Linked DNA regions of Homo sapiens. The main gene of each other region encodes a partner of the protein of the gene in region 2 in a complex. Each region holds a gene or a part of one and is shown on either strand. Other genes may lie near its edges.

Region 1 (8,260 bases), on a different chromosome or scaffold from region 2:
TGTATCAGTTCCACCAAGATTTCAACTGATGATTGCCAACTAGTTTATAAGCTCTTTGAGGGAAATTTTGTTTGCTTGTTTTTGATACGGAATGGAATCTCACTCCTGTCACCCAGGCTGGAGTGCAGTGGCGCGATCTTGGCTCACTGCAACCTCCGCCTCCTGGGTTCAAGCGATTCTCCTGCCTCAGCCTCCCAAGTAGCTGGGATTACAGGCGCCCGCCACTAAGCCTGGCTTTTTATATTTTTAGTAGAGATGGGGTTTCACCATGTTGGCCAGGCTGGTCTTGATCTCCTGACCTCAGGTGATCTGCCTGCGTCGGCCTCCCAAAGTGCTGGAATTACAGGTATAAGCCACCGCACTTGGCTGTTTTTTTCTTTTTTTAATAGACTTAATTTTTTAGAACAGTTTTAGGTTCACAGCAAAATTGAGAAAGGTATAGACATTTCCCACACATATAGCCTCCCCCTTTATAAACATCACTCCACCCTGCCAGAGTGGTACATTTGTTAACAATAGAACCTACGTTGATATACCATTATCACCCCAAATCCATAGTTTAGTTTACACTAGGGTTCACTCTTGGCATTGGCATTGTACATTCTTTGCCTTTGGACAAATGCGTAAGCAAGGAGAGAGAGATGAACAGGCAAAACACAGAGGATTTTTAGGGCACTAAAACTACTCTATTTTAATGGTAGATATACATCATTACACATTTGACCTGTGTTCAGTTCTGTTCACTTGTAGTATCTCTAGTTTAGCAATTCCTGACATGTAGTAAGATAAACTAATTACCCATCTGACCTTAGTCTGGCCCTGAAAACTAGTGTACCATTCTTCCTGGCTTCTTGAATTCAAGATAAACACTTGCAGTACTGTTTTTGCAGTAGACATTGTGTCCTAGCCCCAAACAAATCTTAGCAGTGAGGACTGTTTCTACTTAGAAAATTACACCACCCAACTCCAGCAGATTACTATATCATCAAAGATTCTAAGATTTGTGTCTTCTGCAAGTCAAGACATTCCTCGTTTTGGGAAGGTAGAGCATGGCACTGTGGAGGAACAGTTCCAATACCACTTCAACTGACATTCTCCCCACCTCCATCAAACAAGAGCAGCATACAAAGCACATCATTATGAGCAAATCCAAATTTATTTTAATGTCATGTCATTTTCAATGTGTTTAAAAACCTCATAAGTTAGTGGGAGCCCTAGTTTCCTGGGACAGCATGCCAGAGGTACTGAAATTTGTCACCTTTCTCTACAAACCCCCAGCAATCCAATCCAAGTCCATAGCTTCAGAAAGCCAGGAGTTGTGTCTTCAGTCAGTCTACGCCTCTGGTTCTTGGTTTTTCTTTCATGGGAGGGAGATCACAATATTTCAAACAGGGAACAAAACCAGTTGAGCTTCCAGCTCAGGTCTGTGTAAGATGGAGCGAGGAAAGACCCCACTGACTCCAGAGAAAAAGGGTAAGGTTGAGATGGATTATTTCTTTACAGCTTTGTGAAAATGGAAGAAAAAAGATTTACAAATGAGGATCCATTTCATAGATGAGAATCTCTTCATAAATGAAGGCTCCAGCTCCTAAAATGGGAGGGGCCTGACTGGACAGCCTGAATCAGATGAGGAATCGGCCACACTGAATAAAAACAATCTGAAAAATAATCCTCTTAATTTTGAAGCCAGATAAAATATTTGGGGAGAATGGAAAAAAGAGGAAAAAGCCCCAAACAGATGGAAAAAATGCTGACATCAGAGTGGTATAAAAAAATTCGGCTGAGTTTTCAGTGGTGGTGGCTAATTTAGCCCTGTTCTGTAGTGGGGCACAAACCTTGACCAAGCAGAGAGTAGTAGAAAAGGCTAGAAAGAGGGGCTTGAAGACGATGAATTTTGACTCCTGATTTTATTATTCAATTTCTTTTTTTCATTTAAAGTAGTCTTCCGTGGTTGGGAAGCCTCACCTCCCAAGACCAGAGTCAGTTGGAGCTGGTTGTTGTTGGAAGGGAGTGGGTTGGGGAACTGGGGTGGGGGCAGGGAGATCCCCCCGCTCTGCTGGCGGTCCTAGGTGGAGAAGAACTGCACTTCACAGAGTCTGGGGTTTGGTGGGAAGGGGATGAGGCAGGAGCAGCAAGCTGGGGAGATGGGACCCACCTCAGTCCCCAGCTTCATTTTCTTCTAATGTTTCCCCACTGGTGGCATTCTCTGCAGTCTTGGAGGCCTATATGCAAGAAAAGGAGAGGGAGAAGACCTGTCAGTTTCTAACTACTTGGGGATGTCTGGGACCAGAGATAAAAGTATTTTTTTTTCTGAGACAGTCTCACTCTGTTTTCCAGGCTGGAGTGCAGTGGTACCACTTCCCTGGGCTCAGGTGATCCTCTCACCTCAGCCTCCCAGGTAGCTGGGACTATAGGCATATGCCACCATGTACAACTTTTTTGTATTTTTTGTAGAGATGAGGTTTCACCATGTTGCCCGGGCTGATCTTGAACTCCTGGGCTCAAGTGATGCTCCTGCCTAGGCCTCCCAAACTGTTGGGATTATATGTGTGAACCACCACACCCAGCCATAAAGTTATCTCAATCCTCTGGGTCACAGCTGAAATAAAGACATACAGGTCTCTGACTTACAATGGTCAACTTGTGATTTTTCAACTTCACAATGGCGTGAAAGCAATATGGATATTTCGATACATGATAATTTGTTCAATAAATGTTTTGAGCACATTCAAGGTAGGCCAGGCTAAGCTATGAGGTTCATGGTAGGTTAAGGTACATCAAATCCATTTTGAGCCAGGCATGGTGGTGGCTACTCAGCAGGTCAAGGCAGGACAATCACTTGAACCCAGGAGGAGTTTGAGGATACAGTGAGCTATGATCATGCCTCTACACGTCAGCCTGGGTGACACAGTGAGATCATCTCTTTTTTGGAGACAGAGTTTCGCTCTTGTTGCGCAGGCCGGAGCGCAATGGTGCGATCTCGGCCCACTGCAACCTCTGCCTCCCAGATTCAAACAATTCTCCTGCCTTAGCCTCCCGAGTAGCTGGGATTATAAGCGTGTGCCACCACACCCAGCTAATTTTGTATTTTTAGTAGAGACGGGGTTTCTCTCTGTGTTGGTCAGGCTGATCTCAAACTCCTGACCTCAGGTGATCCATCCGCCTTAGCCTCCCAAAGTGCTGGGATTACAGGCATGAGCCACTGTGCCCGGCCAAAGCAAGGCTGGGCATGGCAGCTCATGCCTGTAATCCCAACAGTTTGGGAGGCTGAGGTGGAAGGACTGTTCAAGGCCAGGAGTTTGAGACTCTGTCTCTTAAAATATATATATATATATTTTAAAATCCATTTTGACTTACAGTATTTTCAATTTATGATGGGTTTACTGGGACAAAGTTCTATCATATAAGTTGAGGAGCATCTGTATAAAAATCCGTATTTCACTACAACTTAACACAGTGGGAGAAAGAGGGATCAGGTTCACCCTGCCAGAGAGGAATGATCGTTAATAACACACCTTCTTTTTTTTCTTTTTCTGGGTTTTTCGACTTGCAGAACTCTGGAGGAGGGCCTGGAAAACAGGAAGAAGGGAAAAAAATTTTGAGAAATGTGGAGGAAATTAAAAATAAAGGGTTACTTTCAGTACTGCAGCTCTTTTCAGGACTTTGCTGGCATTTAGCCCTCACTCCCAAGCAGGATACCATGTACATACTCACCACCTTCTATTCCATACTAACCTTTAGCTCTGCATCCTGGACCTCCATCTCAGACTTGTAGAGGTCAGGCTCGAAGGGACCACTGGTTATCCGCATGGGGCCATTGGGCATGAGCAGAACTGTAAATTTAAACTGGGCAACAAATTCACCTATGGCAAAAATGAAGATGTGTTTTGATAAAAAGTTCCTTTGTCATACTTAGCTCTTCTGAACTTACAGGAAGGATATCTTATAATCAGGGAATCCAAAGTGAAGCTCTTTTTGGAACTCACCCTCCTTCTCATAGAGAACATTAAATGGTTGCAGCAGTTCATGTTTGGCGCACTCCACCACACCCATCCGAGCCTTCTTCTCATCTTCAAATGCTCTGGCAGGGAAGATGATATTCAGAGGTATCTTTAACTCCCCATCAAGTCTTACCATTTTGCTCATATTTTAAAATAGCTCCTACCCTCAGGCAGAAATCATGCTTAGGATTGCTCTTTTACATTACCTTCAATGAGAAGGAGATGGGGAGAGAGAGGGAGGGAGTGAGCACATGCACGCTACAAGTCTAGGCAGGAAGGGAGAGGAAAAAGTGTTCCTGGGTGTATGGTCTGTGAGTCAGACTGGTTCCAAGTACTATCATTGCTTAGTACCTTAAAGTAAACGGCATGGCATCAAAACGCCTTTCCACCTCACTGAAGAAGGCACGTGAAGTTTTCATTTTCAGTCCATACTGTTTAGAGGGGTCTCGTTTGTAAATAGTGGTTCTCTGTCCTGCATCCTTGGCCTGAAAGAGTAATTTAAGTAACATTTGGTCTGGTGAACACTCTCAGTCACCCCTCTTTGCCAACTCTGGTACTCTCCTCACCTTGCCCTCTCCTGAGCTGACGAGAACATCCACAGCATATACTTCATGTACCTCAAATTCAGCTTTTTCATGGTCCTTCCTAAAAGGAATAGAGAGAAAGGAATTTTTTTTTTTTTTTGACACAGAGTCTCATTCTGTCACCCAGGCTGGAGTGCAGTGGCACAATCTCAGCTCACTGCAACCTCCACCTCCCGGGTCCAAGCAACTCTCCTGCCTCAGCCTCCCAAGTAGCTGGGACTATAGGCACAAACCACCAGGCCTGGCTCATTTTTGTAGTTTTTAGTAGAGACAGGGTTTCGCCATGTTGGTTAGGCTGGTTCTGAACTCGTGACCTCAGGTGATCCACCCGCCTCAGCCTCCCAAAGTGCTGGGATTACAGGCGTGAGCCACCGCGCCCGGCCTAGAGAAAGGGAATATTAAGAGCAACAGGTCACTCCTGAAAACATGGAGTAGAGGGCGGACAAGATTCAGTTGGGAGTATAGAAAAAAACCTGATGACTAGTCTTGTGTGGTAGAAGGTAATAAGTAGGGTTGGCACCTACTTCTGCTGGTCTGTGGGATTCTGGATAATGGTTTTTTCTCCATCGATGACATGCTGCTTCAACTGGTGTGACAGCATACCTGTAGATAGTACACAACCTATGGAACAAGCTATCCAGTATCCCAAAAGGTTTCCAAATCCACCCACTTCAGTAGTTTGAAGTGGTAGGCAGTGAGACAACTACCTGGTTATGGAAACACAGGGCTCTGAGATTTCTGGCTTAGACTGGGTTATAGCCAGGATAGATCTTCAAGGGAGCAAAAGCCTCAATTCTGCAAAGCCACTCATTCTTTTTTTTTTTTTTTTTGAGATGGAGGAGATGGAGTTTCGCTCTTATTGCCCAGACTGGAGTGCAGTGGCGCAATCTTGGCTCACTGCAACCTCCTCCTCCCGGGTTCAAGCGATTATCTCGCCTTAGCCTCCCAAGTAGCTGGGATTACAGGCACCCACCACCACGCCCAGCTAATTTTTATATTTTTAGTAGAGACGGGGTTTCACCATGTTGGCCAGGCTAGTCTCAAACTCCTGACCTCAGGTGATCCGCCCACCTCAGCCTCCCAAAGTTCTGGGATTACAGGCGTGAGCCACCGCACCTGGCAAAGCCACTCATTCTTAGACCCTCAACCCTGTTATCTGTTCTCACCTTCTATTGGCGTGCAGTTAAATGAGTGGGCAACTTTGTTCCAGGCTTCTGTCACTTGTGTGTTCTAGAAGTACAACATCAAATGAAAGGTGAGATATCAGGAGCTAATAAGTTCTCTACAATGAGAATAAGAAGCATAAAAGAACTGAGCGTTTTTTTTTTTTTTTTTGAGATGGAGTCTGGCTTTGTCACCAGGCTGGAGTGCAGTGGCGTGATCTTGGCTCACTGCAATCTCTGCCTCCCGGGTTCAAGCTATTCTCCTGCCTCAGCCTCCTGAGTAGCTGGGATTACAGGCACGCAACACCACGCCCAGCTAATTTTTGTATTTTTAGAAGAGACGGGGTTTCACCATGTTGGCCAGGATGGTCTCGATCTCCTGACCTCGTGATCTGCCCACCTCAGCCTCCCAAAGTGCTGGGATTACAGGCATGAGCCATTGCACCTGGCAGAACTGAGCGTTCTAATATCCTCCATCAAGCCCCAATGATTGTCATTCACTGGTTTTTCATTTCATAGCTTGATTATCCCTACAATCTAAAAATACTTTATACAGATGCTCCCCAACTTGCAATGGGGTTACATCTCCAAAAAACTCATAAGTTGAAAATATCACTAAGTCAAAAATGCATTTAATACCCCTAACCTACCTAACATCACAGCCTAGCCTATGTTAAATGTGCTCAGAGCACTTAAAAAACATTATCCTACAGTTGGGCAGAATTATCTAACACATGCCTATTTTATATTAGTGTTGAATATCTCATGTAATTTACTAAATACTATATGGAAAATGAAAAACAGAATGGTTGTATGGGTACTCAAAGTATAGCTTCTACTGAATGTAGCATCAAGCTGAGGACCAGCTGTAACTGCATATCATTTTACCCAGTGCTTTCACAAAGATGGTCTAACTCAATAAATTTTGCATGTGAACAGGGCAGATGTATATCCCAATCTAGAAGACAAGGAAACTGAGTCTCAGGTTAAATGATTTGCCCCAGGTTAAATGAGTGTTAAGTGAAAGAACTTGGTCATAAACCTGGGTTTTCTTTTTTCTTTTTGTAGACGGGTCTCGCTATGTTTCCCAAGCTGGTCTCAAATGCCTGGGTTCAAGCAATCCTCCCACCTTGGCCTCCCAAAGTGCTGGGATTACAGGCATGTGCCACCACATGCCTATAATATTAAGTCCAGTGTTTATCCTTTTTTACCTGGCATTCTAATCTGTTTTGTGGGGACAGCAAATGCTTATTTTTCCTTTTTCTTTTGTGAGACAGGGTTTCATTGTTGCCCAGGCTGGAGTGCAGTGGCATGATCATAGCTCAGCACAGCCTCAATCTCCCAGGCTCAGGTGATTCTCCCACCTCAGCCTCCCTGGAAGCTGGGAATACAGGCACATGTTACCACGCCCAGCTAATTTTTGTATTTTTTGTAGAAATGGGGTTTCACCATGTTTCCCAGGCTGGTCTTGAACTCCCAGCCTCAAGCTATCCTCCTACCTTGGCCCCCCAAAGTGATGGGATTACAGATGTGAGTCACTGTGCCCAGCTAAATATAGCTAATTTTAAAAAGCTGTTTTATAAGGGGTCTGTAGGGGAGGTTGGTAGTTTCATATAGAGTAGCTATAGGTGCCTAATGCATCTTTGGTTCAAACGAGCTTTGGAATTGGATAAAATAGCTTACCTGATTTCCAGGTTTGACCAGGCGTAGGGCAGCTTCAGCACAAAGGTGAGCTGCCTTAATAACATCTGCTTTCCTCCCTGTTACTTGGGTCCCCTGTAGATAAGGACATGCAATCAGTATCTTCCTGGAAAGTCTGTTAACTCAGCTGGCTATCTGGTTAATATCTGTGAGCCCATATGCGAAGACCAGCCAATGAACAGGAGGGTAAAAACAACAACAACAACAAAAACCTTTCTCCTTTTGCTTCTCTAGAGACTCTCTCAACTTACGTGGTGATTGGGGGTGGGGATAAGAAGCAAATGGCAGTGCATTCCCTCTACCCCAAGGCTAAACAGAGATCAAAAGCAGGCCACCTACCTGAGCTACATCAACCACAAAAGTGTGAGCTACATTAGCGATGAAGCCATCCACATGGACCCCAAGGTCACTGAAAGGCAAGATCAGAGTACTGCATTAGGAACTGGCATTTTGTAAATGCTTTAAAAAAAGAAAAATGCTTTAAAACGGTTTAACCTTACATTTTTACCAAGTCACCTTCCTTGAGAATATAATCCTGGTCGCTCTTCAAAGGGGAGAAGTGACATACACAGTTATTTACCGAAATGCTGGTGGGAAAAGCAATACCTGTAAAGAAAGAATCATCAGCCTACTGCCTTGCTGTCTCCCGGGAGCCCTAGTGCCCTTCAGAAATGTAGAAGGATTTTTTCAGGGTCTTGCTTAAGTTTCATCAGTTTGGATTAGGTAGGAAACTGCTTGTATCCCACTTGCCATTCCAAATTTCCAAATACCTCAGCCAGAGCTGGGGTGGGGACTGCGTCATTACAGTGAA
Region 2 (4,395 bases):
TAGTTAGCTGGTCTCTACTTTGTTCTATGTATCTATAATGGGGATTATTTCCTGCTTAATTTTGTGTTATAGCTCCCTCTAGTGGCTAAGTGATTTTCCCTAGCACTTACCAATGGAGAGCAGTACAGCATGTTGTAAAAAAACCAAACAAACAAACAAAAAAAATTAAGACCTATTTCTACAAGTTGTTTTTGTTCAAAGTGCATTTGGTGGAGATGAGTATAGCATCCTAGAGAAGCTGTTTCCACTATCTTCATGTCCACAGTTCTACCAATAGTTGGCACTTATAAGTTGTCTGGTAACAGAAGTCTGATGCTTTTTAACCCGATGCTTGAGTATCAAGCTGAACTAAGTGTTGTTTTGCTTACCTAAACAGTAAACTTCTTATGAAAAGTCATGAATGACTTTTCACCCCCTGAAATCCCAGCCTAGCACCTATTAAAATGTTGTAAATTACAAATGTTATATTTGCCTAAATTAACTTCTATATGACAGAGTCATTTATTCAATTTTTATTCTGTGCATTAATGAAGCACGGAGTGATTTTTATAATAATTAAAAAATCCTTCCTTTAATCACTACAAGCTCACAAGAACCCTCAGGGTTGTTAGGCATTAGCTTTCAAAGCTACCAAGAAGCACCGTGAAGGTCTCAATAACAGGAATAAGTACTGGTTTAAGTATACTATAATCTCTTGGGGTTTGTTTAAAGCAAGTTACTTTTGGCAGCATTACTATTCATTCAATAGACAATCACGATAGACATAATGAACAGATGTTTCCTGATAATCTCTTTACTTCATGCCAATCCCAGCTTTTCCTATAGGATCTAATTGGTCAATGTTCCTTTAAGTACTGATACAGAAACAATAACTCAAAAGAATGTTGTATTGTACACTCTAGGATGCCTGAGTATTTGCTTCAATGGGATATAATTGTTGAGTCCACTATTACAACAGAATGTAAAGAAATGTGGGCCATACCTTTTTTTCTTGTGGCTGCTTCAGCCTAAAAAGATGGGGGAACTTAAAATTCAATCAACAAAGGATTCACAATAACAGGTTTTTCAGTCAAGACACCCCAGTTACAGACAAAAGCATTAGGCCTGTGTATGCTAGTACAGTTCCTACAATCCCTTATATGAACTCTTTGGAGACAGACATATCTGGGATTCAGAGCTGTATGCACTTTATGAGGTACATATATACCCTGTATTACATAAAACCCTCAGCAAAGTCTGTGGCAACTGTGCAATGAATAATGAAGTTCAACAGGAAACAGTTTAGTCACACTAAGTGCAAAATGAAGGCAGCAATTCTGGTCAGGGTTCACATTTAATTAGCTCAACAACAGAAAATCTTTTGTTTTCGTAGTTTTTGGATTTCAAAAAATGGATAAGAGACTGTAATCTGTTTTCTGCGTTTGCAGTCTTCATACTGTGATGGAAATAATGGTTATGTTACAACAGAACTTCAGTCTAACAGTTTCTCATCTTTTAATACTATTTATGGTAAATACATATATATAACTTACTTGCAATTTAAATTACAAAATTCATATACAAAGTAAGCAAAAAGGCACACATAAGAAATCCACCTTGACCACAGAAATGTGAAAACACCAGCCCTAATGACCAAGACAATGTTTCAAAGACAACAAACACCAAGAAAAGTTGAGATTCTACAATAAATCATATTAAACGCAAGCACTATGATGCACAGACGTGAGCACTGAATATTTACTAAAGCATAAAACTTAGGAAAAATCATTTTACGGGGAATCTATTCATATTCCAAACAGCATTTTAAAAAACATTAAACTTAGCTTAGTTTTAAAAACAAAATTCAGACCCAAACAATCAAGAACCAGAAAATGGGTTTCTTACCTTTTGTTTCCAGTAGGATGTGGGCTGAACAGCAAGGTGGGTTATTCAATCTGATGTTATGAAAAGTAATTGCTTCTTAAAGAGACTTAAGTTTTTCCTTGGTTAGAAAATAATTATAGGCTCCCTAAAATATTCTAAGGGGACATAAATAGGGAGAAGAGGGGGAAATTCCAAGACAGCTTTTGTAGTTTCAAAAGGGTGTAACTTTCTTCTAATAATTGCCAATACGGATAGAGACCTAAAGGTCCATTTTCTGAGACTATAAATAGGAGCAGTCCATACTTCCCATCACAGCTTTTAGCTGTCTGGTCATCTTAACTACAAAACCTATGCCCCTTTACCTAAGTAAACATTAGATCCTCTCTAATCTTCAAATTCAGCCTGTATAACAAGGAATACTGTCTCATTTCAATGTGAGGTTAGAATTACTATAACTTTTAGTAGAGCACATCTTTCAACTTTAAACACTCAAACTTGAGTGAAGGCCATTTACATTTTTTGGTCATTTCCAAAACATTCAATGAACACAAATGAACCAAAGTTTACTTAAGTCTAGCTCACATTAACCTTCCAAAATTATCATTAATCATTTATTTTCCCTTTAATAATCTGATGAATTTTTAAAATGTTCTACACATAAAACTTCTTAGAATTTCAAGAATGTCATGTAAAATTATTCAAATTTTTAAACAGTAAATCTGCCTTTTGGCCATTACATTGAATTCTTAGATAAAAAGAGCTACATCCTTAAACTTACACTAAGTACTTAGTGAAATTCTGCATTCAACTTAACATCCCCTCTTCCCAACATTCCACAACGTTCATTAAAATCTACCGATTGGGGTGACCTTACACATTTCTTCCACTACCAAGATTTCTGGTTTTCCTTAGGTTTTTAATTGTCACCCAAATAATCACCTTAAATTCAACTTCCAACTATGATTAGCACCCAAGGGAAATGTTAAAGTCTATTTATTTTAGGTCCCCTCCCCCAACCTAAATAGTACCAAGGGGCTGTCAGTAGACAAATACAAGAAGTAGCAGGCTAAAAGTTTTTAACTGCTTTGGTAGAGAACACCAAAGTTTTTGGTACAAAATAATCTTATGGTTGGAGAAGGGCTTATAAGGCAAAATTCTAAATGCCCAGCTTTTTATTAACAATGATTCATCCAAAGAAGCAGTTAATCTTGTGCACTCTTCCCTTTCAAAAAAGAAATGAGACTTGGGTTAAAAGTTCTACAGGCTGAGCATGGTGGCTCACACCTGTAATCCTAACACTTTGGGAGGCCAAGGCAGGCAGATCACTTGAGGCCAGGAGTTTTGGGACCAGCCTGGGTAACACAGAGAAACCACATCTCTACTAAAAATACAAAATTAGCCGGGCAAGGGTGGCACACACTTGTAGTCTCAGCTACTTGGGAGACTGAGGCACGAGAATCACTCAAATCCAGGGGTGGAGGTTGCAGTGAGCCTAGATCACACCACTGCCCTCCAGTCTGGAGAACAGAGCGAGACTCTGTCTCAAAAACAAAAAACAGTTCTAATACATCTGTGCTGATGTTAACATTTAATACTTACCTTTTTTTGAGATGAGTTTCATTGAGAATATCAAAAGCTATCTCCAAGTGAACATTAGTAGCCATCAACCAATTTTGCACAAAAGCCTATGTTGTCTATGACCACCAGAAAATAAGCAGCATCTATAGTTTTTTAACCACTTTATAACAAAGTAGAGAAGCTTATCTTTCAGATGCTAGATCCATCCCCCACCGTCATTTACCAAGTTACATACACAAATGCCTTATTCTCCCCTTTTGCTTTCCCCTGAAGACTTTTACAATTAACAATAAAAGATGGCTAATACCATTAGATTGCCTTTTAAGAACTTTTAATTTGCTAACACATTAACACAAGAGTCAAAATCTTATCTTACTTAACAATTTAAAGATTAACTGATAGACCCAGTTAGAATCTTACATGAAGAGGAAAAAGGACAACCATGCATAGTTTTTTAAAAAATGTTTATTTTTTCAAAGAAAACGGCAATAGCCAATTGGAAACCTACTTATTCTTCAACTCCAATTTTGTTTTCTTTAAATTTAGAAGTGACTTACTGATTTACTATTTTAAACAAACCCCCCCTTTCCCCTTTAAATGTTTACCATCTACTCGTGCTGAATCCTTCCAAGGAGATTGCTCCAGCGTTTATCTCCAGGTCCTCGCTTTGCTCCTTTTACCAAAAAACGCAAAACACAATTCCATCGTGCATCTTAAGGGCTCCAATCGTCAAAAATAGGAAAAAAAAAATCTTTGGAATAGCCAATTAAGTTGAATAAAAAAATCCACACGAATGCGGTTTGGTTGGGGCAGGAATCCACTCCTATGTTCCTGGTAATCTGATCCCGCTCCATGAATCCTGGTAATTCATCCTCCCTATCCTATCCACATTATGATTTGAATCCAATGATCCAGCTCCAAGGATTGGGATCCAGTGAGCCCTCTCCAATCCAA

Evidence for each region.
Region 1: SRSF1 (region 2) and PA2G4 share a complex: the UniProt entries of both Homo sapiens proteins name them as parts of the ribonucleoprotein complex.

The regions. Positions count from the first base shown.
Region 1 is NC_000012.12:56,106,785-56,115,044, reverse strand, and holds the end of PA2G4 (proliferation-associated protein 2G4), read right to left. Parts: intron 8,056-8,260; coding exon 7,950-8,055; intron 7,859-7,949; coding exon 7,789-7,858; intron 7,525-7,788; coding exon 7,432-7,524; intron 5,816-7,431; coding exon 5,752-5,815; intron 5,189-5,751; coding exon 5,110-5,188; intron 4,647-5,109; coding exon 4,568-4,646; intron 4,487-4,567; coding exon 4,353-4,486; intron 4,082-4,352; coding exon 3,987-4,081; intron 3,864-3,986; coding exon 3,736-3,863; intron 3,570-3,735; coding exon 3,516-3,569; intron 2,223-3,515; coding exon 2,157-2,222; 3' UTR 1,135-2,156; downstream 1-1,134. UniProt on the Homo sapiens protein: May play a role in a ERBB3-regulated signal transduction pathway. Seems be involved in growth regulation. Acts a corepressor of the androgen receptor (AR) and is regulated by the ERBB3 ligand neuregulin-1/heregulin (HRG).
Region 2 is NC_000017.11:57,999,605-58,003,999, forward strand, and holds the end of SRSF1 (serine/arginine-rich splicing factor 1), read right to left. Parts: 3' UTR 1,315-4,395; downstream 1-1,314. UniProt on the Homo sapiens protein: Plays a role in preventing exon skipping, ensuring the accuracy of splicing and regulating alternative splicing.